4 linked regions of the Homo sapiens genome follow. The protein of the gene in region 2 interacts with the protein of the main gene of each other region in a pairwise test. Each region holds a gene or a part of one and is shown on either strand. Other genes may lie near its edges.

The links.
Region 1: the proteins of CRX (region 2) and SOX14 interact in binary tests that used the Homo sapiens proteins (3 or more experiments, as listed by UniProt).
Region 3: the proteins of CRX (region 2) and SMAP1 interact in binary tests that used the Homo sapiens proteins (3 or more experiments, as listed by UniProt).
Region 4: the proteins of CRX (region 2) and SPG21 interact in binary tests that used the Homo sapiens proteins (3 or more experiments, as listed by UniProt).

What each region holds. Positions count from the first base shown.
Region 1 is NC_000003.12:137,759,847-137,767,237, forward strand, and holds SOX14 (transcription factor SOX-14), read left to right. Parts: upstream 1-4,468; 5' UTR 4,469-4,938; coding exon 4,939-5,661; 3' UTR 5,662-6,488; downstream 6,489-7,391. UniProt on the Homo sapiens protein: Acts as a negative regulator of transcription.
Region 2 is NC_000019.10:47,817,084-47,825,119, reverse strand, and holds the start of CRX (cone-rod homeobox protein), read right to left. Parts: upstream 3,184-8,036; 5' UTR 3,110-3,183; intron 1-3,109. Other genes in the region: TPRX1 (tetra-peptide repeat homeobox protein 1), read left to right, coding at 6,069-6,148, 6,582-6,652. UniProt on the Homo sapiens protein: Transcription factor that binds and transactivates the sequence 5'-TAATC[CA]-3' which is found upstream of several photoreceptor-specific genes, including the opsin genes.
Region 3 is NC_000006.12:70,670,454-70,678,051, forward strand, and holds part of SMAP1 (stromal membrane-associated protein 1), read left to right. Parts: intron 1-7,598. UniProt on the Homo sapiens protein: GTPase activating protein that acts on ARF6. Plays a role in clathrin-dependent endocytosis. May play a role in erythropoiesis.
Region 4 is NC_000015.10:64,965,651-64,973,248, reverse strand, and holds part of SPG21 (maspardin), read left to right. Parts: intron 1-3,026; coding exon 3,027-3,135; intron 3,136-3,886; coding exon 3,887-3,994; intron 3,995-7,598. UniProt on the Homo sapiens protein: May play a role as a negative regulatory factor in CD4-dependent T-cell activation.

The sequences.
Region 1 (7,391 bases), on a different chromosome or scaffold from region 2:
TAAAATAGAAAACAGTGGGCAGCGGGGAACGGAGTAGAGGGAATCAGAGGTGCCAAACATTAAAGATATTTTGGGTAATAAAAATTAAAAGTTCATGTATCGCAAGGACAAAAAACCAAACGCCGCATGTTCTCATAGGTGGGAACTGAACAATGAGAACACTTCGACACAGGAAGGGGAACATCACACACCAGGGCCTGTCGTGGGGTGGGGGGAGGGGGGAGGGATAGCATTAGGCGATATACCTAATGTAAATGACGAGTTAATGGGTGCAGCACACCAACATGGCACATGTGTACATATGTAACAAACCTGCACGTTGTGCACAGGTACCCTAGAACTTAGAGTATAATAAAAAAATTAAAAGTTTATGATTTAAACAAAGATTCTTATTTCCTGGGATCATTTTGTCACCTCAGTGCTTGCTTCTGGGTTATGGACACTTGGGGGGGTGGGCCGGATTAACTGTCTTGTCTCTAAACACCTGGGTGCGCTGGCGCTCACTCTCAGCTGCGAGCTGAAGCCCACGCTGCTCTCAGGCTTCCCGCAACAGGCACCTGCGACTTCGCTCACCAAAATCTTCCAGTGGCCACAGTGAGCGGGCAGGACTGGTGCCAGCAAGCCCCAAGCATCCCAGGCCCTCTGGACGCAGGTGACTCTTCTGGCCTCTTTGGAAAGCCATTGGAGCTCGAGAGGCATAGCCAGCTGCCTCCTTTCCGTCCATCCCCAACCGCGTTCTCTAAGCCACGTTCTGTGCGCCTTACTCCCAGCACTCAGCCATTCCCCAGCCCCAGAGGCCTTGGAGTAGTGACCTCTGCCCACCAGAGAGGAGGGGGCCGGAGGGTGGGGCGGAGCCTTGTGGCAAGGCAGGTGGGTGCAGGCCTCTGGGGCCCCAGACTGCCGCGTCTGGCTCTACCAGGCTGTGTCTCGGGCCCCGTGCCTGCAGCTGCAAGGCGGGGAAAGACCTATCGGGAAGATCCACCTCGGCCTGGGCAGAAGGAAACTTTACTGAGAGTCTTCTCTGAGTTTGGAATTATGCGGAAATTGAACCCAAGATGAATAACACGCAGCCACAGCCCCAGAGAAGCTCGAAGTCTAGTGGGCTGCACCGACTGCGACAGGGACCCAAAAGAGGCTGGGGAACAGGGATTGAAATGGAAGTGTGAGAGTGAGAGCATAGAAGGGGTCCTAGCCCAGCCCAGGAAACAGAAAAGTCTCCCCATAGACAGTGAGAGGCTTGTACTGATACCTGAGGTACGCGCAGGAGCTGCGTGAAAGGAGAGGCCCAGAGCCAGAAAAGAGGAAGGCGCATCCTGGACGCTCTGCGCCCTGGAGGGAGACGAAAGGCCCGGAGAGAAGCAGATTAGGTCGGTGCCCTTAGAGGCCTCTTCCTTCACTTCCGGGAAACAGCGGCGGTTCCCTGACAAAATCCCTGTTGCTCGGGGGTTCGGACGCCTTGCTAAGGCTGGCACGCAGCGGACCTTGAGTAGCTGCGCTGTGTACTGAACGTGTGCACAGCTTCTCCAGGCAAATGTGCAAGCGGAAAGACCTCATCCAAGCGTTATCTCCAGCCCTGGAGGAGAATGAACTGGTAGCCTGGGGCCAAACTTCAGGCCGTGGACAAAGCAGGAGGAGTATTTAGGCAACCTCTGTCCTAATGCTTGTTCTGGTTGTGACCGAAGTTGCTGACTCTCCTCAGGGGTCACGTCTCCAGGACGTGCTACCCGGTGGTTTAGACCCGTCAGGGAGGCACAGCGTGAAGGGACAGCGCAGCGCAGTAGAGGCACCTGCTGGAGACAGCACCAGGCCAGACCCCAGGATCACGGGAACTCCTGCTCCCGCCACAGCTCTAAAGAGTGTTGAATAAACCGGTGGTCACCGGTACTGCGTAAGGGGTGTGCGTGGCTTTGCAGTTCGCCTAGGAGACAAGCTGATGCACGGCCTGGAAGGTGCAGCCCTCATCCCTGCGTTCCCTCCCCGCGCGGAGTTCCTGTCTCAAGGCCAAGACGCGCAGCGCTGATGCTGGCCCCTTCCTAGGTCAGTGCAGCTGGACCAGGCAATCGGGGTCTCCGAAACGTCGGGGGGTCAGCTGGCGCCCTGCCCACCATCGAACGCCCTTCGTATCACTCCGCTCCTCATTGCGAATTGGACTGCGCATTGGCTGCGACCCAAGGCTGAACACAAGAAGCTTGGAGAGGAGCTCGGGCGTTTGAGGAGAAGGAAATATGAGGAATTGCAGGAAGGCGCTCGCCTGCCCGAACTGCCTCCGGGCAACTGGAAAGGATTGTCCTGGAAACTGAGAGGAGAGAAAGGACGTAGGACCTTGTGCCAGATCCCCTTGCTGAGTAATTTCCAAGAGCTTGGTTTGCATTAACCCAGAACTTTGGGTGTGCGTTTGGTGTCCCCTGGGGGGTTCTAGAGTGAGAGATTGGCGGGTCCCCTCCGAACGCTGGATCTCGCTGCAGATATCAGTATTTCTCTCATTCCTTCCCAAAGCCGTCGGGATCGCCCAGTAGAATTAGAATTGGGTGATTCCTGAATCTCCTATCCCTGGCTGGCTCTGAATATAGCGCACCGCTGGTCAGACCTGAGTAGGGGTTGCCAGCGACGCTCGGAAACCCTTTCCAGACTGGGCTGAAAAGTGCGTTTGCTTCCTGAGACCCTAAGCTAAATGAAACTTCCTGCAGAGAAAGCAGGGTTACAGGGCTGGATGGAGGCTCTGGAGAAAGGCCAGAGCTGGGGTTGGGAAGGAATGTAAAGGCTGTGCACCTGTTTGCCAGCCCTCGGAGGTGGAGCCCATGGCTAAGCAAATCAAGCGCAGGATCAGTCTTTCCAGCGTGGTTTATCTGCATGGCAGGTGTCGATTGCCCCAATAGTCTCATCAGGTGTTCCACATTGGGCTGCAGAGCCATGAAATCCCTAGGCGTGACGTCTAGTGGAATGGGGGTGAAAATAGGGATTTTCAAATCCTATACATCAAGCATCACTCCCAGAGTCACTTTTGACAAATCACCTAGTTTTTCTCAACCTTAGTTTCCTAATCTGTAAAATGGGGATATTGCCCACCTCTCTGAAAAGTGCGCCAAGGGTGAGAAGTTCCACGCGTCTTTCTAATTTTAGGAAGGGGAAGCAAAGTCTTCTCCTCAAACTTGATACACTACATGCTAGAGAAAGATCCTCCCTTCCGGCCTCCTCATTCCCTGTCACCCTCCCCCACTCCTAGCCCCTCGGAGCCAACGGAGCCTTGCGCGTTTCTGGCCGGTCCTCCCAAGAGAGAATGGTGCAAAAGCCAATAAGCCTGGAACACACGCAGGTCCCGCCGGGCCTGGGACAATGGTTTCCATTTAATAAATATTTCCCCCAAGGGCATTTCACATCGGGCAGGCAATTATTCAAAGGAAACAGGCGCGCAGGTTGGCTCTGCGGGTTATTTCGTCCTCTTTACCCGAAGAATGCTCATTTGACGCAAGAAACGAGTCTCGCAGCCTCCCTGGGTGGGAAGAGGCGCCCAGGGACAAACCGACCCTGGTTGCGATACACCGTGAGACTCCGCTGTAGGGCCGCTGCAGAAGGGGCACCGGGAAGAGCCCCATACCCAGCCTCTAGGCTCTTCTTACGGTATGAACATTTGTGGAGTAAAAGTTGGAGGTTTAAAGACACTAAATAATAATAACATAAATGGGAACTGCAATAGAAATCTCAGCCCCATCCCTGCCCCAAAAGTGAAGAACAGGTCGTAGTGCTTTTAAGGGCTCACCAACTAGGGTTCGAAATCTCTGCATTGCCTGACGCGAGGCCTTCCAGGAGCAGGTCAGACAACATTGCTCAGCCACCCAGGGTCCCAGCGCTACGCCCGGGCGCCGCATCCTGGGGCAGGGGTGGATGCCTAGTTGCAGGGGCTTCCCGGGAGAACACTGCCAAAGCACCGCCGAGGGTGGGGCGCGAAAAGTTTATTTCGCTTTTACCCTGAGCCTGCTATATGTTATTTTTCTCTTCCAAGGATATTTGACAAGAGGGCAAAGTGCTGTCCTTGCATTTCGCGGCAAAGCTGTCCTATTTATCAACACAAGCTCTCGCCTCGCTCCCTTTGCTGTCCCTTCCCCGGCCTTTGTATTTCAAGCCCTAATTCTCTTTCACAACCGGGAAAGGAAACAGGAGACGCGGAAGAGTTTTATTTGTTGACAGTGCCCGAGACAATGTGGAACCGAAGTCCCCAGTCTAGAGCTAGCCTCTCTGCTCTAGCCCTCTCTCTGCCTCTGTCCCTCACACCTCTCCCCGCCCCCACCAGTCGCGCTCTCTGTTTCTTGCACCGGCGTGTTGGCAGGTGCGCCCCCTCGGCTTCTCTGCTGCTGATTGGCGCCCAGGTTGGGGAGTCGCCGCCCCGCGCTTATGTCAGAGTGCGTGCAGTCCCGGCCCACCTCGCCTTTGAACTTCGCCGCTTTTGGCTCTCGTTCACCAGCCTCCCCGCATTCTCAGCCAGGTGCAGCGCTAGGCGCGGCAGCTCCGGGAAAGCCACGGGAAGGGGGAGCCACGACTGGAAACGCAAGAGGAGAGAAGGGAACTAGAGAAGGCAAAGGTGGAGAGGGGGAGAAGGAGGAGCTTCTTGCCCTGGCTAAAAAATTACCTGGCCACTTAATCCCGGAGACTCCGATACTTGGGTCCCAGCCCCTGGTGCCTGAAGCCCCCCGGCCGATCGCCCTCTCCTCCCCCGCCCTTTCTGCCCCCACTCGCTCCCCCGGGGCTGCCTGGGCGCTGGGACTGGCATGATCAGCTGAACTTTGTGGGGTCAGCGCTTCTCTCTGGCTTCCCCTCAGCGGCGCCAAGGCGAGGGGAGCGCAGAACCCCGGCTCAGGACGGACAGACAGACGGCCAGCCGCGCCCAGGCTCGTCTGCAGAACCCTTGCACTCCCTACCCCCACCCACCTAGCCGCCGGGACCATGTCCAAACCTTCAGACCACATCAAGCGGCCCATGAACGCCTTCATGGTATGGTCCCGGGGCCAGCGGCGCAAGATGGCCCAGGAAAACCCCAAGATGCACAACTCGGAGATCAGCAAACGCCTAGGTGCCGAATGGAAGCTTCTGTCCGAGGCAGAGAAGCGGCCATACATCGATGAAGCCAAGCGGCTACGCGCCCAGCACATGAAGGAGCACCCTGACTACAAGTACCGACCTCGGCGCAAGCCCAAGAACCTGCTCAAGAAGGACAGGTATGTCTTCCCCTTGCCCTACCTGGGCGACACGGACCCGCTCAAGGCGGCTGGCCTGCCCGTGGGGGCCTCCGACGGCCTCCTGAGCGCGCCCGAGAAAGCCCGGGCCTTCTTGCCGCCGGCCTCGGCGCCCTACTCCCTGCTGGACCCCGCGCAGTTTAGCTCGAGCGCCATCCAGAAGATGGGCGAAGTGCCCCACACCTTGGCTACCGGCGCTCTGCCCTACGCGTCCACCCTGGGCTACCAGAACGGCGCCTTCGGCAGCCTCAGCTGCCCCAGCCAGCACACGCACACGCACCCGTCCCCCACCAACCCTGGCTACGTGGTGCCCTGTAACTGTACCGCCTGGTCTGCCTCCACCCTGCAGCCCCCCGTCGCCTACATCCTCTTCCCAGGCATGACCAAGACTGGCATAGACCCTTATTCGTCAGCCCACGCTACGGCCATGTAACCCCCAGCCCGGCCCGGACCTGAGGCGTGGTCTGAAAGCCGGGTCTGCACCCTGTCCTCTGAGCCTAGCCCCGGCCTGCAGACGCCTCCGGGGTCAGCCCTGCCGCTGTCCCTTACACCACCCAGACTTTTCCTCTCTCTTCCAGGGGGAAGGGTGGGGCGTCCTCCCGGACCCAAGGCGCAGACAGGTACCGGAAACTTGCAAACGTTATGTCAGCTACACAGCTGCCCCTATCCCGACTCTCCCAAAACAAATCTCCGACTGTACCCCCTTTGGACAAAAAAGTAGGCAGTTTTGCTTTATTTATATCCCCTTCACTCTCCTCGGATAGGCTTTGGACTCTGAACTCCCAGATTCTGATATTATATCTACAATATGCATATATTTTTTCCTTTTGTCCCCTGAAGAAAAGAGTTAGCTGTGTCTCTGTGTTTTGCCATCAGACACAACTAGGAGCCATTTGCTCTTCATGTATGGGGGGGAAAGGCTTCAAAGTTTTAAATTACAGAAAGGGAAACATTTCTATTTAAAACCATGCTATGATAGTGTTTGCTTCTTTAAAGGGAAAACAAAAAGGACCTACATGGTTATTTACTTTGTGTAAAGCAGTGCTTCTAGAGATCTAAGTTTACTTTTAGACAGAATGTCGGGTTATGAAGTCAGGAAGTAGAAGGTGAACAAAAAATTAAAAGAACAAAAACAACCTAAATGGTCATAAATGTTTTGACGATGTCTTGGAAATGTACCTAGAAGGATTTTACCTCGTTGCTCTGTTCATTTGTTGAACAAAGACGTTTTGAATAAAGACAATCTGTCATTGTAAAAAAGTAACCTTTGATGTGCCTAAAATCTGAAGTCAGGAGCCAGGTTGGAGGGACTGGAAAGTCGGGTGCGGGGAGGCTGAAAGTGCATAGAGCGACTTTAAGCAGTGATGGCTGGTGGCTGCCCCCCGTTGGCCCAGCTTGGTGGTCTGCGGGTTGGGTGTAGAAGGGCCTAGAGCTTCGGATCCGTCCGGAATGCGCCCTGGAGATTGCTTTTTGCCTTTAGAGGCTAGACAAAGGTATCGTTCCCTGGGACTTCACTCTCTCCTCCCATTCTTCCCAAAAGGGTCAGGCCACTTCAAGGAATGAATGAACTAAGTCAAAGGCCGACCCAGACCGCTGAGATCTGGGTGAGTTTACTTTTTAAAAAACCAAACGCTGAAGGAGCAGGGAGAAGCACCGAGTCTCCTGGGAACCAGTTGCGCGCTGAACACCCCGTCCTGCATTGGATGTTTAAGTTCAAAGCATGGGAGAAGACTGGGGGAATCAGGTATTCTGCCTTTTTAGGTGTTTGGAAAGGCTGCTGCCCACTCTTCTGGGGATTTGGTGCTTGATACTGGTTCCTAAGTTAAAAAATAAAACTCTAAGAAATGCAGAAAAATGTGCCATAGGTCCCTGCCCCAGAATGTCGAACACTTTTTGCTGAGACCCTGCAGGAGCAAAGGGAAAAGGAAGGCGACATTGTCATGGCTCAGGCAAGGAGTTTTTAAAAATCGTAAAAAATCAAATAAAAGCACAGCCCATGACGTTAAACAAGGAAAAGAGTCCTTTTCTTTCCCCTCCGGGTGAATGTTTTCTTGAAGATTATTGTCTTTCCTGAGAAAGGACCCTCCGATGTTATCCAGCAAAACTCTTTGGAATTTGTTCTCAAAATCGAAGGGTGCTTTCCACCCTTGGTCTTGGAGTCTC
Region 2 (8,036 bases):
TCTGGGGAGGCTGAGGTACAAAAATCTCTTGAACTCGGGAGGCGGAGGCTGCAGTGAGCTGAGATTGCACCACTGCATTCCAACCTGGGCGACAGAGCACGACTCCATCCCAAAAAAAAAAAAAAAAAATCAATCAATCGAAAGAGGACCTGTCTCCTGGGGAGGAAAAAAAAAAAAGAATGTCCAGGAATTCATCACTCGGCAGACACTTGGCCCAGGCTTTATATACAAGATCTCACAATGACAACAATTTCCAGACACTGATGTTTTATGATTTCAAGGGGTGGAACAAAGAATATCAGTGTCTCTGCCCTGGGGATCAACCTGGGAGGCCCCAGGCTGATTCTCAGAGCTGTGGGGTTCGGCACTCACTGGGTCCCAGGTTCCCAGCTGAGCAGTTGTTCCCACAGGTGAGGTCTGAATGCTCACAGCCACCTGGTGGGGCAGACATGCAGATAACTCCATTCTACAGCGGGGGAGACTGAGCCTGGGAGGGAGGGAGGTGCCCACAGTTCAGGTGGCTGATGACCTTAAGGACCTCCAGGGGGCCCCAGCTTCTCACACACTGCATGCACCATGGACCTTGGGAACAAGATCTCAGGCAACAGTAACTCCATGGAAACTTCCTCCCAGGCGGCTTCTGGTATCATCCCCACTTTACAGAGAAGGAAACTGAGGCTGAGAGAAGTGTAGTCTCCAGTTCTGTCTCGCACGTCAGCGGCAGAGCCAGAGCTGGGCCAGCACCTGCCCCGGAGCCGGTGCCCTCCTGATCACCCGGCGATATGGCCTCTTAGGATGCTCCCCACAGCCCCACGGAGCTCAGAGGTCCCTTTCTCAGAGGAGGAAACTGAGGCTGAAAGAGGTTTCGTCAATTCCCGAGGTCACACAGGTGATGAGTGGAAGAACCAGGGGTAAAATTTAAATCTCTTTGGCCCCCGAGCCCCGCTCTTCACCCCCAAGTCTACCTAGGGACCCTAGAAACAGAATGAGGCTGGTCTCCTGCCCTGCTCCCACTGCAGGCCAGGCCTGCAATATGGCTCATCTGGCTGGATCATGGTGACAGCTTATCATTGTCCCCACTTTGCAGAGGAGGCAACCAAGGCCCAGAGAGCCCACATGAGGGGTCCAAGGCCACACAGTGAGAAAAGAACAAGATTTAAACGCAGACTCGGCCGGGTGTGGTGGCTCACGCCTGTAATCCCAGCACTTTGGGAGGCCGAGGCAGGTGGATCACCTGAGGTCAGGAGTTTGAGACCAGCCTGGCTAACAAGGTGAAACCCCATCTCTACTAAAAATACAAAAATAAGCCAGGCATGGTGGTGCACGCCTGTAATCCCAGATACTTGAGAGGCTGAGGCAGGAGAATCGCTTGAACCTGGGAGGTGGAGGTTGCACTGAGCTGAGGTCATGCCACTGCACTCCAGCCTGGGCCACAGAGTGAGACTCCGTCTCAAAAAAAAAAAAAAAAAACCAGACTCATGTGGCTTCATGCCAGCCCTTGGCAAGACCCTCCCAGCTCAGCCACATTCAGGGCCCTCCCTTGTCAGCCACTCCAGCCTCTCTCTGCAGCCTCTGTTGGCTCCTCTGTCCAGCGGGGACAAGGAGCTGGGTGGATGCACCCACTGCCGGCCATGAGACCTGGGGGAAGCTGGGATCCACGGCACAGTTAGAGCCTGAGCAAATCAACTCCGTGATCAACAATGTGATCCCTGAAGCATCCAGAAATTCACACACAGTGGGCAGCCCTGAAGTCGGACCTCACTCTGTGGCAATCACAGCCCTCGCTCGTTCCTTTTGGGAAAACCGCATCACACCTCCTCTCTGTGGCAGTCTGTCTACCTGCTTCTACCCTTCTGCCCTTCATTCATTCATTCATTCCCTGCATATTCACTGAGCACTCACTGTGTGTCTAGGACTGACCCAAGCACTGGGAATACAGCCGAGAGCAAGACAGACAAGGCCTCAGCCCTCCTGACAGGGGCAGACGGGAAACAAGGTGTCAATCAAGAGTTTTGCAGGAGACCGGCTGGGCGCAGAGGCTCATACCCATAATCCCAGCACTTTGGGAGGCTCAGGCGGGCTGATCACTTGAGGTCAGGAGTTCGAGACCAGCCTGGACAACATGGAGAGACCCCCCATCTCTACTAAAAATACAAAAAATAGCTGGGCATGGGGGCACGCGCCTGTAATTCCAGCTACTCAAGAGGCTGAGGTGGATGGACTCCTTGGACCTAGGAGGTAGAGGTTGCAGTGAGTGGAGATCGTGGCACTGCACTCCAGCTTGGGCAACAGAGCAAGACTCCATCTCAAAAACAAACAAAAAAAAACTTTGCAGAAAGAAGATCAGAGAGAGTGACTGTGCTGGAAGCTAAGAGGGCGGGGGCGTGAGGATTCCCCAGTCCCGAAGTAGAGCCTGGGCTGAAAGCCAGAGCCTCTGGGTGCATTGAGGCCCTAAGTGATCAATTCACCAGCACAGTGATCCCCAGTCATCACATTCCTGGCTCTCTCGGGCAGGCCCAAGTCCACCCGGAGTTCTTCCTGTTGCAGCCACAGACCTGGGCTCTCTGCGTATATGTCTGTTCCGTCCCTTGTCTGTCATTCATCCATCCATCTATGCAACACATATTTAGGCAAATCCCAACCACACGCTGGGCACTGGGGAAAAATCAGTGCTCAACAAGGGAGGGAGACAGGCCATTTGTGGATCATCGCGCAAATGAAAATTTCAGGCAGTGCTAAGAGTTTTAAAGAACATCCAACAGAGCGGTATGCTGAGGAGTTGCCTTAGAACCACGGTGAGAAGCCCCCAACCCCGGATGCCGTCAGGGCTTGAGGGGACCCCCTTGCCCACAAGCCACCCTGAATCCTCCCAATGCCCCGAGTGCCATCAGCCAGTCCCTGCTGTCTAACCTTACTCCCTCCTGCTGCAATCACAGCCTAGCCCCGTTTCCACAAATGCCAGGACGGCACCTCTGTTTTGTGTGTGACTATTCAGCAAACATCACCTGCAGAGCACGGCAAACACAGCCACGAATAAGATAAACCCAACTTCTCCCCTCTCTTTTTTCTCCCCTCCTCGGTCCCCTCCGCCTCTCCTGCAGACGCTCACCTTCAGAAAGGAGGGACGGGGCTCTCCCGTGGCCCAGGACCTAGACAGAGCGGCCAGACAGCAGAGGCTGAAGGAAACACATCCCCTCACATGGGGAGATTTTAAGCCTGGGCCGGGAGTGATGTCATTTGTCATGGCCTGGAACTCGGAGGGTAATCCCGGCCAAGGTGGGGGACTCGACTGGGCACCAGGAGGTGACATTGGCTGGGAGGGGGAGGGGCACCCGTCTGCTTAATCCCCTCCTCTTCCCCCCATGACATCTTGGCAATTAGGGCTGATGGGGAAGGGAGGCCCCAGCTCCTGCCGGTGACCATAAGCCCCTACTCCTCAGGGAAGTCCTTCCTTAGGTCTAACTGGTGTCTCTCCAGCTTCAGCTAGTATCCCAAGAGAGAGGCATCAAAGAGGAAGGAGAGCACTGTCAGATGGTCCTGAGAGATCGTCTGAAAAAAGAGAGGCACGGAGCTTTCGGGATCCCTCTCCTGGGTCCCCCTTTCTCTCCACAACAGTCTGTCCGACAGCTAGTTTATCTCTGTAGTGCCTCATTGGTCTCGGTTTCTGCCTCAGTTTCCCCTGTTTCTCTCTCTTTGACTTGGTCAAGTCTTGTCTGTGGCCTCTCTGTCTCTGTGTTGTCAGACATGATATTCTCCTCTTTTTGGGGGCGGAGGTGGCAGGGGCTGCTTCCAGCACTGAAAATAGGCAGACTTATTAGAAAGGGTGTTTTGTTTTTCTGTTTTTGGTGGAGTTTGGGGTTTGGGATTTTTTTCTTTTTTTTTTCCTTTTTTTTTTTTTTGGTTGAGACAGGGTCTCACTCTGTCGCCCAGGCTGGAGTGCAGTGGCATGATCACAGCTCACTGCAGCCTTGACCTCCTGTGCTCAAGGGATCCTCCCTCCTCAGCCTCCCCAGTAGCTGAGACTTTACAGGCACATACCACGATGCCCAGCTAATTTTTTTATTTTCGTAGAGATGGAGTCGCTCTATGTTGCCCAGGCTGGCTTCAAACTCCTGGCCTCAAGCAATCCTCCCACCTCGGCCTCCCAAAGTGCTGGGATTGCAGGCGTGAGCCAACAAACCCAGCACTCACCATCTCTCTACACACCATTGGTCTTTGTCTGGCTTCTCTGTACCTCAGTTTCTTTTCCTGTGGGCCTTAGGCTGTGGCATTTCTGCCTACTTTCCTGAATACCACTCTTTCATTCTCCATCTGCTCCTCTCCGTCCCTGTCTCTGTTGATAAACCTGCATTATCCCCTTGGTCTCTCTTATTCTTTTTCTCTGTGTCTCCCTGTCTATCTTGCTCTTTCTCCCCTCTCCCTCAGCCTCCATGTCCTTCTGTTCCTGTCTGTCTGTCCCTCCCTTTGCTGTCTTTCTGCCTGTCCACCTGTCCCTGTAACTCCAGCCTCATCTCTGTCCCTCTGTCCTCGCTTATCCTCTGCAGCTCCAATCTCTGTTCCTCCTTCTCTTTTTCCCTGTCTCTCTCTCTCTCTCTCTCTCTCTCTGATTCTTGCTTCCCCTCTCCCTGGATTGCCCTTCATTTCTGTTTTGTTTTGTTTTTGTTTGGAGACAGAGTCTTGCTCTGTCACCCAGGCTGGAGTGCAGTGGCACCATCTCGGCTCACTGCAACCTCCACCTCCCCGGTTCAAGCAATTCTCCTGCCTCAGCCTCCCGAGTAGCTGGGAGGATTTCCTTTCATTTCTGTCCTTCTCCCTGTCTTGGTACCTCTGTTGCTCTGTATTTCTGATTTTCCTGGTCTCTGGCCCTCTTTGTGTCTCTCTCCTCTCGTCTGTCTCTCTAGATATTAATATGTCCCTGAGCTCCTGGGTCCCACACGGGTCTGTTTCACTTCCCCGTGCACCCAAACACGCACGCAAGCACACACACACACACACACACACACGCCCGGTAATCCCTCCTTGTGGCTGGGTCATTGTGTCTCAGCCATAAGGGGCCCTTTCTTTCTCCTCCTCCCTCCCCCAAACCCCCTGCTAGGAGAGATTAAGGCTACAGGCCTGGCTGAGGAATCAGGACAGGTCTCATTAGCTTGAAGAGCCAGGGATGACAGCAAGAGAGGGAGGGGCCGTCTGACCCTCGGCGACCAGTCCAGAGGCTCCTGATGGGAGAATCCAGTCCTGGAACAGACCCCCTGGCCCTGCAGCAGGGAAGGAAGGTCAGCTGTACAGGGAGAGGGAGGAGAAAATAACTTCCAGCGGGACAGAGAAGGTGTCAGCAACTCTTAAATCACCTGCCCTGGGGAATCTGGGTACTGGTTGGCTCCTGGATCCAGAGTCCTTCCAGGGGTGGGGGTACAGAGAGGTGGGTTTCAGCTGGTCCTGCACATGGCCCTGGGATCAAGTAAGCTGAAATCAAATCCAAGCACTTCTTCTCTGAGCTAGGTCTTCTGAGGCAACTTGCTTTCCTTCTCATCTCCACCCAGTGGCTCAGGCAGAAATCTGGGCACTCAGCCTGGCCCCTAACCCCTTTCTCCTCACCACTTACATCCAATCCATCCATAAGTCCTGTCATCTCTTCTATCAGATCATTATCCTACTGAAACAATATAAAGCACTGCTGGAAGAAATTAAAGGAGACTCAAGTCAATAGTGAACTATACCATGTTCATGGTTTAGAAGACTCAATGTTATTAAGAGGTCAATTCTTCTCAAACTAATCTTTAGATTTACTGCAATCCCAATCAGAATCTCATCAGGATTTTTCTGTAGAAATTGATTGTCAAACTGATTCTGAAGTTGCTATGGAATATAAATGATCTAGAATAATCAAAGCAGTCTTGGAAAAATAAAACGAGTTGGAGAACTTACGCTACCTGACTTTGAGACTTATTGTAATGCACATGATTGCAGCTGGAAAAAGTGGGGTTAAGGATTAAGAAAATGTGGCACATATACACCATGGAATACTATGCAGCCATAAAAAAGGATGAGTTCATGTCCTATGCAGGGACATGGATGAAGCTGGAAACCATCATTCTGAGCAAACTATCACAAGGACAGAAAACCAAACACCGCATGCTCTCGCTCATAGGTGAGAATTGAACAATGAGAACACTTGGACACAGGGTGGGGAACATCACACACAGGGGCCTGTTGTGGGGTGGGGGGCAGGGGGAGGAATAGCATTAGGAGAAATACCTAATGTAAATGATGAGTTAATGGGTGCAGCAAACCAACATGGCACATGTATCCATATGTAACAAACCTGCACGTTGTGCACATGTACCCTAGAACTTAAAGTATAATAAACAAAAAAAGTGGGGTTAAATTCTGGGGACAGTCTGAAGATGTATGGAATACTGGAGGATCCTTGGATCAGGTTGTTGATGAGTTTCACTCCAGGCTCTACTGCAGGATGGGGGTGCTCCTCATACCTGCACCCCCTTAGCTCCCTAACACATTCATCCTATTTAATCTTTTGCAAAACTCTTACTGACATCTTGTTTCTTGTCTGCCCTTGTCAGGAGGATGGGGCCCTGTCTGTCTTGTTCTCAGCTGTATTCCCAGTACCTAGGACTGTCCCAGACACACAGCAGTAAGTGTGTGTTCAATAAATGTGAAAGAAATGGATGGATGGATGGACGGAGGGATGGATGGATGGATGGATGGATGGAGGGATGGATGGGTGATGGATGATGGATGGATGGATGGATGGATGGATGATGGATGGATGGATGGATGGATGGATGGGTGATGGATGGGTGGATGGATGGATGGATGGGTGATGGATGGATGGATGGATGGATGGATGGATGGGTGATGGATGGGTGGATGGATGGATGGATGGATGGGTGATGGATGGATGGATGGATGGATGGTGGGGCAGAACCAGGTAGAGACACTGGCACAGAGAAGTGGTGTGATGTTTTCCCAAAAGGACCAAGGGTCTGTGATTGCAGCACTGTGAGGTCAGACTGTGGGGCTGCCCACTAGTGTTTGAATCTCTGGATGCTTCAGGGATCATATTGTTCCTGAGTTAATTCATTCAGGCTCTAACTGTGCCATGAATCCCTGCTTCTACCAGGTCCCATGCCTGGTAGTGGGTGCATCCACTCAGCTCCTTGTCCTCACTGGACAGAGGAGCCTACGGATGCGGCAGAGAGAGGCTGGCAGGGCCAACAAGGGAGGGCCCTGAACATGGCTGAGTCGGGAGGGTCTTGCCAAGAGCTGGCATGGAGCCACATGAGTTTGGGTTTAAATCCTGTTGTTTTCTCACTGCGTGGCCTTGGGCCCTTCATATGGGCTCCTGGGCCTCAGTTTCCTCCTCTGCAAAGTGGATACAGTGACAAGCTGTCACAATGAGCCCTGGGAATCCCATGGGAGCAGGGGAGGAAGCTGACCTCATCCATCTTCTAGGAATCCCAGGCAGACTCGGGGGTGAAGAGCGGGGCTCGGGGGCCAAAGAGATTTAAATTCTACCCCTGGTTCTTCCACTCATCACCTGTGTGACCTCGGAAATTGACGAAACCTCTCTCAGCCTCAGTTTCCTCCTCTGAGAAAGGGACCTCTGAGCTCCGTGGGGCTGTGGCGAGCATCCTAAGAGGCCATATCACCTGGTGATCAGGAGGGCACAGGCTCCGGGGCAGGTGCTGGCCCAGCTCTGGCTCTGCCGCTGACGTGGGAGACAGAACTGGAGACTACACTTCTCTCAGCCTCAGTTTCCTCCTCTGTAAAGTGGGGATGATACCAGAAGCCGCCTGGGAGGAAGTTTCCATGGAGTTATTGTTCCCTGAGATCTTGTTCCCAAGGTCTGTGGTTCATGCAGTGTGTGAGAAGCTGGGACCTGTGGGCACCTCCCTCCTTCCCAGGCTCAGTCTCCCTGCCTGTAGAATGGAGTTATCTGTGTGTCTGCACCACAAGGTGGCTGTGAGCATTCAGGCCTTACCTGTGAGAACAACTGCTCAGGTGGGAACCTGGGA
Region 3 (7,598 bases), on a different chromosome or scaffold from region 2:
AGTTTTTGAGTATTTGGTAAGGTTGAAGTACATTATGGAGGCTTTTTTAGTAGAATTCTTGGCTTGTTACATGATTTTGGATCTATATGCTAGGATGACATAATAAATATAGTACTTTTAAAAGATATGTTAAAGGTCTTACTCTACAGCTCAGTTACTAAGAAGTTTCATTCTGTGTATGTATTGATGTTTTCTTCACTGTCTAGTAAATTGCATCAAACTTTTCATGTACTGTATTTCAAAGTTATTTCCTAGTTAACTCAATTTTCTTTCTTTCAAAGAAGCTTCTTCCACTGATCTTTGAGAATATGTACCAAAACTAAAGCTTAGGATTTGAGGTGCCTGTATTATCTTGCCTTATCATAGTTGGTAGAGGTATGTCAATTGGGTTTTGACATTTTCTTACTGAATCACCAGCTGTGTTTCCTGGATTGACAGTATTTAGGAAGCAACGAAGGAGAAAAGGATGGCATAGGCGCCAGTTTCCTGCTCTTGATCCTGCTCTTACCAAATCTGTTGAACAACTGGAGAATTTAAGAACAGGCAGATGGAACTACTCCTCCTCTCTCCTAGCTGCATTCATGACTCAGTGGGAGTTTAAAGCAGCTCTTGTTGGTTATTAGTTGGTGGCACTTTAGGGAGCAGTGAGGACTGGGAATGCCTTGCCAGCTTCAAGTTTAGTTTTCAGTATTTAAAGTGTTATCTACAGGTAATTCTAGCTTTGATTTTTGTTTTTTTTTTTCACTTCTCTATTCTTTCACATGCTCTGAATAGGGCATCTTGTGTTGGACATCAGGAGTAGCCTGAACTTGGCTGAGTAGGGCTCCTAGAAAACATCGCTGGGCTTGGCAGGTACCACATTGACATGTCCCATGCTTGTTAATGTATATTTCTGAGATTTTAAAAGTGCATTCAAGACCAGCCTGGCCAACATAGTGAAACCCCGTCTCCACTAAAAATACAAAAACCATTAGCCAGGCATGGTGGCAGGCACCTGTAATCCCTACGTGGGAGGCGGAGGCAAGAGAATTGCTTGAACCTGGGAGGCGGAGAGGCGGAGGTTGCAGTGAGCCGAGATCGCGCCACTGTACTCCAGCCTGGGTGACAGAACAAGACTCCGTCTCAGGGAAAAACAAAAACAAAAACAAAACATATAGATAAAATTCACATTGAGCGGTTTCTTCCCACTATCCCCTCTCCCCAGCCCTTGGCAGACACTATTGCATGTTCTATCTCTGTAGGTTTGGCTGTTCTGGATATTTAATATAATACAACATATGAACTTTTGTTTCTGACTTTGACTTCATATGTTTTCAAAGTTCATTCATTTTGTAGCATGTGTCGGTACCTCACTCCTTTTATGGCTGAATAATATTCCATTGTATGGATAGACCACAATTTATCCGTCTATTGATGAACATTTGGTCTGTTTCCATCTTTTGCTAGGTTTGATTTTGAGCATGTTTAAATTGGTATGAAAGTGAGTCTCTTGCCCATTCAATTTTGGGTAGTCAGAAACATAAGGTTTTTTAACTCTAGAGATTGTTTTGTTTAGCCTGTCTGATATTGAGAGGGTAAGCTCATTGCTGAGATCAAACACTCGTTTCTTTGTTCCGCAGATCTTGACTTGAAGACACACTGTTAGATATTGTATTAGGTAAGAGAGCTAAAAAAATTTGTAAGACCTAAAGGAGTTTGTTTAGTGTGGGTTGTGTTTTTGCAAATAAATGATTCTAAAACGATGTGCTAAGTGCTTGTAATAATGGTTTTAAGAAATAACTACCTCTATACTTATTTTGGGCTGTTGTTCCCCTTGCACCTTGACTTTTGCCCATTGGTGGTCTTTACAGTTCCTAGAATGCTGTTTCAAGACCTTTGCACGTGCTGTTCTTCTGCCTGGGAAGCTTTCTAACAAGTTTTTGCCTGCTCAGCTTTTGCTCATCTTTCAATTCCTGCTTAAATGTCTTTTCAAGGGAAATAATTCTCCTTGATCCTCTGAGATTAGGTTAGGCTTCCGTTTATACATAAAAGACAACACCCTGAATCTTTTATTGCACTTATCACAATTGTAATTAAACATTATTTAGGTAATTATGGGGTACACTGTATCCCTGCTGGATTATAGCTGTAAGAGAGGAGACCTTGTTTATCTTGGTTAGGGTAGTATCCCCAGTTTTCAGGACATGTGGTAGGCAAATGTAACTTAGCAAATATTTTTTGAATGAATGAATGTGTGAATGAATGAGCACAGAGCCCCTGGCAGGCAGCAGGGTGTGTGAAAGGGAGTGCACCTGTGAAAGGGAGTGGCATGTGGAGTGACCCTGTTGGGACCAGTCACAGAAGGAGTCTTCATTTGAGCTAGGTTCTGAAGGTGGAGTGGGATTTCATCAGATAGAGAAGGAATTAAAGGACACAGCTGCACACACACATGTACCAGTATGAAAGAACAGAAGAAGTTTCCATACGGCCCTTACTAGATAAGCTTTCTTTAAGCATGATCAGTTTTGGTAGTCTCAGGTCAGAGGAAGAACTGGGATAGTGAGGATTGCAGGCAAATCCTGAGTTAGGAGATGTTGAACAGTGGTCCAAGAAGAGGGCAAGAGGACCTAAATTCACACAATGTCAATATATAAGTCAGGGTATAGAGCAGGAAAGAGATCCACTGTAGCTATTTTCAGGAATCAGGTACTTACCAAGTCATTGGAAGGGCTGGAGGAGGGAAAGTCAGGGAGCCACTGCTGAACTGCTTTCAAGGCCACACATACCACCACTGCTACCGCTGCCCCACTGTCATAACTGCTTCTCACCCAGGAGACTGGTATGCTGATGGGGGCATAAGGCCTATGGAGCTGCAACCACTTAGTGTCTGTAGACGTTTTTTGTTAGTTGCCCTTTCTGTAGGAATGTGGCCTCTGTCCCACTTGTGCTTTCCATGTGCAGATAATTGGCAGATCCTAATTATGTCCAATACCTTGCCTTCAAGGGAGTCTTTTAGCTTTCTAACTTTTTCAAAAAGTAGAAACGTGTAGAGCCCATTTGATTGCAAGAGCCAATCCAAGAGTTCATGTTTTTCATTAAGTCTTTGATATTTTAGAGTTGTTACTTTTAAAGTGTAGTAATATTTACTAAAAAGTAAAGTTCACCTTGGGGAACTGGTGTTTATTATGATGTTGATGCTTATAGGACAAATTTATATAAGTGAAAGTCTGATTATAATTCACCTAAAGAAATTTGCCAATCTAAAAGTTTCCTCAAAATGTGAAACTTCAGTCTGATGGGTCTGTTGTTCTTGTAATTCTGCTGATCTCGAGGTTTTTCCTGATTGGGCAGAGCCCTGGTATCAGAGCTGAGATGGAAATCATTGGTCTCTGACTCATCAGTTTAAAACTTGGGCTGCATGTTGTCTCCCCTCCTTTTGTTCTTCACAGTTCTTCTTTGTCTTTTTTGTTTGTTTGTTTGTTTGTTTAAGATAAAACTTTCAGTACTTGACTTCATTAATTAAGGAGGCTTACATCTCCTAAATTGTTGCTGTACAAGATATATATATATATCTTTCTCCACCTTTATTAACCTATAACAGACTTGAATCCATGCTCTCTTTAAGGCAAAGTAGAATGTTTAAAACGATATACTTTATAAACTCAAAAAAGTGCTTTGGCATTTTTTTTTTCTTTTTTTTTCTTTTTGGTACAGGGTCTCACTCTGTCGCTGGGCTGGAGTGCGATGTAGGCTCTCTGCAACCTCTCCCTCCTTGGTTCAAGCAATCCTCCCACCTCAGCCTCTCAAGTAGCTGGGGCTACAGATGTGTGCGACCATGCCTACCTAATTTTTGTATTTTTTGTAGAGACCACGTTTCGTCATGTTGCCCAGGCTAGTCTTGAACTCCTGGGTTCGAGTGATCTGCCTCCCTCAGTCTCCCAAAGTGCTGTGATTACAGGTGTGAGCCACCACACCCAGCCCCTTTTGCTTATTTCAAACGCTTCTACTAATCGTCTTTTCACGGATTAGAATTAAGCCATTTTAGTTCAGTTTCTCAATTTTCTCAATGAAAGAAGATCAAAGAAACTTGGAGGCCATTTTGTAGTTATTATCAGAAGAGTTGACCGCCTTACATTCTTACCACTGTAAAGAGTTGATTTAACAGACATTTAATTTTGTTGATAAATCAATATTTTCTGGGCACTAAAAAGATTAAGTACTACGTTAGATACTACTGTGTGTGTTAAAAAAGTTTTGGATGCCGGGTGCAGTGGTTCATGCCTGTAATTTCAGCACTTTGGGAGGCTGAGGCAGGTGGATCATCTGAGGCCAGGAGTTTGAGGCCACCCCTGGCCAACATGGCAAAACCCTGTCTCCACTAAAAATACTAAAATTAGCCAGGTGCAGTGGCACATGCCTGTAGTCCCAGCTACTCGGGAGACTGAGGCAGGAGAATTGCTTGAACCCTGGAGGCGGAGGTTGCAGTGAGCCGAGATGGCGCCACTGCACTCCATCCAGCCTGGGCGACAGAGTGGGACTCCATCTCAAAAAAACAAAAACAAAAAGTTTTGGATATAGTTGTCTACAAGCTAGTTAGAGATCTCAGTAGACATGAAACAATTACCAGTTAACTTCTAATCTATGTTTACATTGGTAGATTCATTAGAAGTTTAGAGATAGGGTAGCTCCATTGTGACCTGGAGAATGTTAAAAAAAAAAAAAAAGCAAATAATAACATTACATATATACTCACAAATTATATAGTGTTTTTTTTTTTTTTTTTTTTTTTTTTACCAGAGATGATGTACTTCACACTTTACATATACTAACTCATATAATCTTCAAAACAACCTTTGAGGTAGGTAATATTATTACCCAGGTACACAGAACTTAAAGTAGTGGAGCCAGAAATTTTTTCATTAAAAAAATTTTAGGAGGCCTGGAGCAGTGGTGTACACCTGTAATCCCAGCATGTTGGGAGGCCGAGGTGGGTGGATCACCTGAGGTCAGGCGTTTGAGACCAGCCTGCCCAACATAGTGAAACCCCATCTCTATTAAAAATACAAAAATTAGTTGGGTGTGGTGGTGCACTCCTGTAATCCCAGCTACTGGGGAGGCTGAGACAGGAGAATCACTTGAAACCGGAATGCGGAGCTTACAGTGAGCCAAGATCGTGCCATTGCACTATAGCCTGGGCAACAGAGCGAGACTCCATCTCAAAAAAAAAAAAAAAAGAAAAAAACAACTTGGAGGGGAGTGACTGGCACTTTCTTAGGACCTGGGGATTAGCAGGGGATAGGTAGATAAGGTTCATGCTCAAAAGGATCTGTTAGTCATTGGTGTGGAGAAAAGAGTTAACAAAGCAGGCCTTGCGGTGGTTGGCTGACATCTGAGGGGAATCTTGGGGATGGTCCCACCACCCTAAGTGATGAGTCTGTCATTGTGCCTAAGTTGTTTGTATAATAAATATGGTTTATGTTGAATATCTGCTTTTCTTCTGGGATTCTGGAATTGGCATATGTGCCAGCCAGGGTTACCTACATGACCAGTCTCCCTAATAACCTTTGGCACTGAGTCTCTGATGAGCATCCCTGGTTGGCATCATTTTACATGTGTGGTCACAGCTCACTGCTGGGAGAATTAAGTGTGTTCATTGCAACTCAACTGGAAGGGAGCACCCGGACGCTTGCTCCTAATTTCCCCTGGACTTTTTGTGCCTTTCTCCTTTGCTGATTGTGCTTAGTATCTTTTTGCTATAATAAATCATAACGATGAGTACAACTGTATATTGAATCTTTTGAATCTTCTTAGCAAATTACTGAACATGAGGGTGGTCTTGGGGAACTCAAAGCATAATTGGTAATATATATTTTCTTCCAGTATATTATACAGGACATGTTGGAGCCTCAGTATATCTGTGCTGGCTCTATAACCTAGCCTGCTAATAAGGGTACAGTCTGGAGGAGCAAGGATGAACATTAGAGGCTTTTATAACCTGGGGAAATTGTGATTTTATTGAGATGAGATAGGGGTGGGAATCTGAACTGTAGAGTCAGGATTTGAGCCCGGGAGATATAGTCTGTGCTGTTAACTATGTTTGATGGTATGATAGATAAAACACCTGTTTTTGTTGTAGAAATTTGTGATGTAAGAGATTGTTGTTGGGAAGACTGTCACCTTCGGCTAACTTAAGGTTTTTCTCAGATTATTGCCAAATGTGTTCAAATGTGGACAATATCTTCATTTTAGTTTCCCTCCTTGCATTTAATAGCAGAACCACCATAACTTCAAAATACCAGTTTAAACAAATTGGAATTTTTGTCTCATCACTAAAGTTTATTTTATTTATTTATTTTTTCCTTGTTATAGAGACAGGGTCTCATGCTGTTGCCCAGGCTGGGGTGCAGTGGCGTGATCATAGCCCATTGCGGCCTCTAACTTCTGGGCTCAAGTGATCCACCTGCCACAGCCTCCCAAGTAGCTGGGACTACAGGCTTGTCACCATGTATGGCTAATTTAAAAAAAATTTTTTTGTTGGGTGTGGTGGGGAGGGGCCTTGCTATGTTGTTTGGGCTTTCAAACTCATGGCCTCAAGCAATCCTCTTGCCTAGGCCTCCTGAAGTGCTAGGATTAGAGGTGTGAGCCACCTCACCTTGCGTAAACTTTATTTTAGAAACTTACTGAGTCCACAGATAAGTGCTTTAGTGTTTTTCTTTGTTTTTTGTTTTGTCTTCATATATATATATAATTTTTTTTTTTTTTTTTGCTATATCCTTAGGTCAGATACTGGTCATCTACCTGGGCTTTTTAAACCATAGAAACAGCATGATAGAATTGAAAGAACACTAGCTTGGTTGAGCAAAGCTAGGATTCAGTCCAAGCTTTGCCTCTGACTTGCTTAGTGACCAGTTGTCCTTGTTCTCTTTAATCCTTATTGCAAAGATTTATTTCAACCTTGTATGGTCTGTGTTCTTTCTTGAATCCCATACCTTGTCACTTCTTTTTTTTTTTTTTTTTTTTTTTTTTTTGAGGTGGAGTGCCAGTGGCTCGATCTCGGCTCATTGCAAACTCTGCCTGCCGGGTTGATGCCATTCTTCTGCCTCAGCCTCCCGAGGAGCTGGTACTACAGGCGCCCGCCACCGCGCCCAGCTAATTTTTTGTATTTTTAGTAGAGACGGGGTTTCGCCGCATACCTTGTGACTTCTATGTCAGTGTTTACTATTATTATTAAAAAATTATATTATTGAGAGTTTATTTTTTGAGTCCTATTGAGATATGGATTGTCATCAAACTTTTATAGTTTTTATTTAAAGCTTTTCACTGATGATTTAGGTCTTGCTGAGCAAATTTACCTAGTATTATCTTTAATTATCCCAAGCTATATCACACAACTCATACAACTCTTCCCCACAGGTTGAGGAGTCCTTTTGTTTAAAATTGTTTCACTGTAATGCTTTCTTACTATTAATGTCAGTATTTCTACCTCAGATGTTAGGTAGAACTGTGTTTAACTTGGAGTGGCATTTAGTTACTCAGATGTTAGGTAGAACTGTGTTTAACTTGGAGTGGCATTTAGTTACAGTATCATATAGAAGTGATTTTTAAAATTATTTCACTTA
Region 4 (7,598 bases), on a different chromosome or scaffold from region 2:
TGCCGTACTCCCAACACTTTGGGAGGCCAAGACAGGAGGATCACTTCAGGCCAAGAGTTTGAAACCAGCCTGAGCAACATAGTGAGACCCCATCTCTACAAATAACAATAATAATAAATTAGCCAGGTATCATGGTATGCACCTGCAGTCCTAGCTACTCAGGAGGCTGAGGCAGGAGGATCGCTTGAGCCCAAGAGTTCAAGGCTGCAGTGAGCCACAACTGTGCCTCTGTACTCCAGGCTGGGTGACAGAGCAAGACCCTACTTCAAAAAAAAAGCCCAGTGAGTAAACACATCTGTATGATCAGTGTTTTCAAATAATGTATAGGGAAATATCGTTTTCACATCTACTTAAAATTGCACTCTGATATTTTTTAGTTTTTTTTGTTGTTGTTTGTTTTTTTGTTTGTTTGTTTTTGAGATGGAGTCTCGCTCTGTCGCCCAGGCTGGAGTGCAGTGGCACGATCTCAGCTCACTGCAAGCTCTGCCTCCCAGGTTCACGCCATTCTCCTGCCTCAGCCTCCCGAATAGCTGGGACTACAGGCGCCCGCCACCATGCCTGGCTAATTTTTTATGTTTTTAGTAGAGACGGGGTTTCACCGTGTTCACCAGTATGGTCTCGATCTCCTGACCTCGTGATCCGCCCGCCTCAGCCTCCCAAAGTGCTGGGATTACAGGCATGAGCCACTGTGCCCAGCTATTTTTTAGTTTTTCTGATGTTATCTTAGTAATTACTCAGCATTCATGCAACAATTTCTTGTATACATTAGCTACTTTACAAATCCTTCCCGTCCAGATAATGCACTAAATAATGCTCATTATTTTTGGTGATTTTTATTGCTGTTCTAATTGTTAGAATGCCAAGACAGCCCCCATTCAGTTTGTGCTCTGGCACATCAGCTGCTTATTGTCAAATATCTGAGTGCTTACTGTGTGCCACACACTGAGGATCCAGGAGTGAGCAAAGTCAACAGGGTCCACCCCTTACAGAGCGTACTTAGACCTCATCACCTTCAAAAGATAAGAAAGTGATGGGGCTGGGAGAGAACTTAGAAAGTTAACTGGAAGGTGACCTAGTGGTCCTTTTGAGGGAAGCTCAACTTCCAGCAAGGCTGTCCCAGTGGTAATAAGCATCAGAAGGTAGTTTGCACCTCATCTAAGTAATTTTCGTCATAGGTTTACAGAAATTAGTGTTTGCCCTCCATGATGGCTCTTAACAGTTGAAATTAATGGAATAAATATAAACTAAAGATCATATATAGAAATCCGTAAAGATCTGACCAGTCACAGTGGCTCACACCTGTAATCCCAGCACTTTGGGAGGCAGAGGTAAGAGCATTGCTTGAGTCCAGGAGTTCTAGACCAGCCTGGGCAACAGAGCAAGATCCTGTCTCTACAGAAAAAAAATTTTCTTTTTTGAGATGGGAGTCTCGCTCTGTTGCCCAGGCTGGAGTGCAGTGGCACGTTCTCACTGCAGCCTCTGCCCCCCAGGTTCAAGTGATTCTCCTGCCTCAGCCTCCCAAGTAGCTGGGATTACAGGCGCTGGCCACCGCCCCTGGCTAATTTTTGTATTTTTAGTAGAGACGGGGTTTCACCATCTTGGCCAGGCTGGTCTTGAACTCCTGACCTTGTGATCACCCACCTTGGCCTCCCAAAGTTCTGGATTACAGGCATGAGCCATTGCGCCTGGCTCAGTAAATTTTTTTTTTTGGAGACGGAGTCTGGCTCTGTCGCCCAGGCTGGAGTGCCATGGCACGATCTTGGCTCACTGCAAGCTCCATCTCCTGGGTTCACGCCATTCTCCTGCCTCAGCCTCCCGAGTAGCTGGGACTACAGGCGCCCGCCACCAAGCCCGGCTAATTTTTAGTATTTTTAGTGGAGACGGGGTTTCACCGTGTTAGCCAGGATGGTCTCAATCTCCTGACCTCGTGATCTGCCCACCTTGGCCTCCCAAAGTGCTGGGATTACAGGCATGAGCCACCGTGCCTGGCCCCGGCTCCCCCAGCTCAGTAAATTTTTAAAAAATTAGTCAGGCCTGGTGGTACGAGCCCGTAGTCCCAGCTACTCGGGAGGCCAAGGTAGAAGGATCACTTGATAGGAGTTTGAGGCTACAGTGAGCTATGATCACAATACTGCACTTCAGCCTGGGCAACAGAGTGAGACCCTGTCTCTAAAAGTTTTTTTTTAAATTTTTTAATTAAAAAATAAAAAGAGGCCAGGAGTGGCTCACGCCTGTGATCCCAGCACTGTGGGAGGCTGAGGTGGGTGGATCACTTGAGGCCAGGAGTTCACCACCAGTCTGGCCAACATTGCAAAAGCTCATCTTTACTAAAAATACAGAAGTTAGCCGGGCGTGGTGGCATGTGCCTGTAGTCGCAGCTACTCGAAAGGCTGAGGCATGAGAATTGCTTGAGCCCGGGAGGCAGAGGTTGCACCCAGCCGAGATCATGCCACTGTACTTCCAGCATGGGTAACTGACTGAGACTCTGTCTCAAAAAATAATAACAATAATAAATTTAAAAAATAAATCTATAAATATCAATTTGCCTTGAATTAGCCAAGTTGAATCTAATAGTAGCAAATTTGGGGAGGTGCAATAGCTTTCATATTGGTATTTTGAAATCTGTTTTGAAATATCAATCGATAAAAACATAATATCAACCAGAAGGAAAGAATACTTCTCTTAATATTCAGTTTTCCAAAAGAAATAGTTTAATCCTTGGAAATAGGGCCAATTAGAGAAAAAAAACAATCTTGGACTCATCAGAATGTCTATCTCAGTAAAGGTATTTTGAAATATCTCTTATAATTATCCTAAATCCTCAAATAAAAGTTTAATTATATGAAGCCATAACTCTTTGGAAGCTTGGGAAAGTGTGTGTAAAAACTAGATGCTGAGCTCTTTGGAGGAGGGGATTAGGACTTTTTATTTCTAGATCCCAAGCTAATACAAAGCTTTAATGTTGAATGAATATTTGCCATGTGTAGTCTTGGAAGTTTAAATTATAAGGTCTTTGTGTTTTACAGCTTTTGGCTGATGCCTGCATTTATGCTCAAAAAAATAGTTCTTGGAAATTTTTCATCTGGCCCGGTGGACCCTATGATGGCTGATGCCATTGATTTCATGGTAGACAGGGTAAGGATCATGACATTGGGTTGGGGACACATTGTATTGGGAATTTTCACATCTACTTGGTTCCAGAAGATAGATCTGTCTCACAAGTATGTGTAAGAGGTATTTGCTAAGCAGAGTAATACATCTGAGCAGATATTATTGCTGGTAAGGGCTTGCCTACATCAGTGCTTCCCACCAGCTATTCATCAAAATCACTTAGGGGAGCTTTCAAAAATACAGATTGTAAGGCCTCACAGCAGATCATCCATCTGGAATCCCTGGGCATGGGATCTGGGAATCTATTTTTACTTCACACTTTTCCTCTACCCACCAGGTAAATCTGATGAACCAGGTCTGTTGGCTTGCATTTAGGAACTGCTGGGCTAGATGATTTCTCAAATCTCTTTTAAGATCCCTTAAAGGTTTATCTTAAAAAAAAAAAAAAAACAAAAACATATATCTGTCACCTTTGAGCAGTAGGAATTGGCTTGCTGCCCATGGGCACCTGGCTGGAGTAGGCAGTGTAGGCTGAGGGCTGTAGAAGGCCGGGTTTCATTGGTTTGTACCCAGGTTTCCAGAATAGAAAAATGCCACAACCTCCTGAGAAGCCCAGTTCATGGTCTCTCACCTAAGTTGTGGTTCCTCACTGATGACTTTTCTGGCCCCACCACAGATGATACCACCTTTATAAGCACAAATGTTGTCTGTGGATTTAATGTAAATGTGAAAAACAAAATTATTTCAAAAACTTTACCTGTGTTTCTTCCTGCAGCTAGAAAGTTTGGGTCAGAGTGAACTGGCTTCAAGACTTACCTTGAATTGTCAAAATTCTTATGTGGAACCTCATAAAATTCGGGACATACCTGTAACTATTATGGATGTAAGCTTCCTTTTAAGTAAAATAGCTGCTTTACTTTTTAAAATGTGTATGTCAAGATCTCCTATAAAACTATTTGATAACTTTCAATGTACCTCTTCAAATGCTGCCTTGGCTTTTGTTTTTACCCTCCAGCTTTCTCAATTCCAAAATAATCTGTTTATTGCTTATCTTGGATTTCTTTCTGGCAGGAATAACACCATTGAAATCAAAATAGGCCGAGCACAGTGGCTTATGCCTGTAATCCCAGCGCTTTGGGAGGCTGAGGCAGGAGGATTGCTTGAGTCCAAGAGTTCAGGACCAGCCTGGGCAACATAGTGAGACCCTGTCTGTATTTATTAAAAAAAAATAAAAATAAAAATGAATCAAAATAAATTTAAACAAGGGAGTCTACCCATTTGATGTATTTTTGCTGTTCTCATCAATAGATATTGCACCATATATTGCACATATATGGGCAGCAAAGAGAAGGTGCTTCACAAGGGTAACAAGGGTAGAGAATCAAGAATTCCATAGTTTAATTACCACAAAAGCTTGCTTATTTTTTTATTGTGGTAAAATGTACATTTAAAATATGCCATTTTAACCATTTTTAAGTGCATAGTTCAGTGGCATTAAGTATATTCACAGTTCGGCAACCATCACCATTTTCACAACATTTTCATCATTCCAAGAAGAAATTGCATACCCATTAAACAATAACTCCTGTTCCCTTTCTTCCCCCGGCCTCTGATAATCAACGGTTTTATTTTCTGTCTATAAAAATTTACCTATTCTAGAACCTCATATAAGTAGAATCATACAACATTTATCCTTTTGTGTGGCCATTTCACTTAGCATAATGTTTCACAAGACTTATCTTGAAATGTTATACATGTGTCAGAATGTCATTTCTTTCTTTTTTTTTTTTTTTTTTTGGAAACAGGGTCTCACTCTGTTCCCCAGGCTGGAGTGCAGTGGTGCAATCTCAGCTCACTGCAACCTCTGCCTCCCGGGCCCAAACAATCCTCCCTCCTCAGCCTCCTTAGTAGCTTGGACCACAGGCTCACACCACTACGTTCGGCTAATTTTTTGTAGAGATGGGGTTTCACCATGTTGCCCATGCTGGACTCAAACTCTGGGACTCAAGCTGTCTGCCTGCCTGGGCCTCCCAAAGTGCTATGACAGGCATGAGCCACCACGCCCAGCCTATTTCTTTTTAAAGCTGAATAATATCTACCAATAAAACCAATGTTGGTTTATACCACATTTTGTTTATCCATTCATCCGTCAGTGGTCACTTGGGTTGTGTTCAGCTTTTGGCAATTGTGAATAGTGCTTCTATGAACATTGGTGTAAAAGTATATGTTTGGGCAGGGCACAGTGGCTCATTCCTGCAATCCCAGCACTTTGGGAGGCTGACTCAAGAGGATTGCTTGAGCCCAGGAATTCGAGACCAGTCTGGGCAATACAGGAGACCCTGTCTCTACTACTAATAAAGAAAATTAGGCCGGGCGCGGTGGCTCACCCCTGTAATCCCAGAACTTTGGGAGGCCAAGGCGGGTGGATCATGAGGTCAAGAGATCGAGACCATCCTGGCCAACGTGGTGAAACCCGTCTCTACTGAAAATACAAAAATTAGCCGGGCATGGTGGCACACACCTGTAGTCCCAGCTATTCGGGAGGCTGAGGCAGGAGAATTGCTTGAATCTGGGCGGTGGAGGTTGCAGTGAGCTGAGATCGCACCACTGCATTCCAGCCTGCCAATAGAGTGAGACTTCGTCTCAAAAAAAAGAAAAAAAAAAAAAGGAAAATTAGCTGGACATGGTGCCACATCCCTGTGATCCCAGCTACTTGGGAGGTTGAGGTGGGAGGATCACCTGAGCCTGGGGTGAGCCATGATCATGCCACTGCGTTCCAGCCTGGGCAACAGAGTGAGAACCTGTCAAAAAATATATGTATATTTGTTTGAGTTCCTGCTTTTAATTTTTTTTTATTTATTTTTAAATTATTTTTTAAAAATAATTTTTTGTTTTTTATTTTTATGGGTACATAGTAGATGTATCCTACTTTTAATTCTTTTGGACATATCGTTTGAAGTAGAATCACACTTTTTGAAGTACCACCATACTGTCTTCCACAGTGGCTATACCATTTCATGTTCCCACCAACAATGCACAAAGATTCCAGTTTCTCTATATCCTGGACCCTTATTTCTGGTTTTTTGGTTGATACTTATCCTAATGGATATGAATTGGTATCTCACTATGGTTTCAATTTACTTAAAAAAAAATCATATGATTATTTTGCCTTATAAATGGATTTGTTCCTAAATTCAAATAATATGGTTTTTTGTTTTTGTTTTTGTTTTTGTTTTTTTGAGACAAAGTCTCACTCAGTTGCCTAGGCTGGAGTGCAGTGGCGCGATCTTGGCTCACTGCAAGCTCCGCCTCCTGGGTTGACGCCATTCTCCTGCCTCAGCCTCCCAAGTAGCTGGGACTACAGGCACCCACCACCACGCCCAGCTAATTTTTTGTATTTTTAGTAGAGGCAGGGTTTCACCATGTTAGCCAGGATGGTCTCGATCTCCTGACCTCATGATCTGCCCGCCTCAGCCTCCCAAAGTGCTGGGATTACAGGTGTGAGCCACCGCACCTGGCCATAATATGGTATTTTTAATAATTGGTTTTTGTTGGGAAATTATTCATTATAAGCGTGTAAACAACTTCTTATCATCCTCTGCCATAATCGCTGCATTCTGACATTTGCCATAACATAGAACAAGCTTTTCAATGGTCCTCACAGGACATTTGCTCTGCCTGCCCTTCTTTCAAAGCTGTGCTCACTGCCTGGGTTCATGGTCACTGAAAACAGCCTGTAAGTTTTAGTTGGAGATGCACTTAAACATACAGATTTGGTATGGTATATTTAGTATACAATTTTTTTTGCTTATTTTACTTTTTGAAAAATTTTGTTGCATGTAAAAACGTAAATGTGTATGGGTATTGAAGGATGTCTAGAATCATATGCTGCAAACTGGTTTCCCCAAGAAAGAATAGCTTGTACTCTACATTTTTTTGGAATTTTTTTCACTGAGCCTAAATGACTTAGTTTATTGCTTTAAATTAATGATAAAAGTAAAAAGTTCTTTTGGGGCTTCGTGATCTTTTTGAAACTTATTGACATTTGCAATGATTGTTCTCTATTAATATTCTGTTAATCTACTTAGCTATATTTGAGGAAAAAGGAAATTCATGGTAGAATTTCCCCCGACCCCAGCCGGGCTTGGTGGCTCACGCCTGTAATCCCAGCACTTTGGGAGGCCGAGGTGGGCAGATCACCTGAGGTCAGGAGTTTGAGACCAGCCTGGCCAACATGGTGAAACCCCATCTCTACTAAAAATGCAAAAATTAGCCAGGCGTGATGGCGCATGCCTGTAGTCCCAGGTACTTAGGAGGCTGAGGCAGGAGAATCACTTGAGCCCAGGAGGTGGAGATTGCAGTGAGCCGAGATCACACCACTGCACTCTACCTCAAAAAAAAAAAAAGAATTTCCCCCCACCAAAAGAATGCAGGAGATGCTGTGCAGCAAAATCTGTAGCTAATGTCTTCGGTTGGAGTTATAAGTC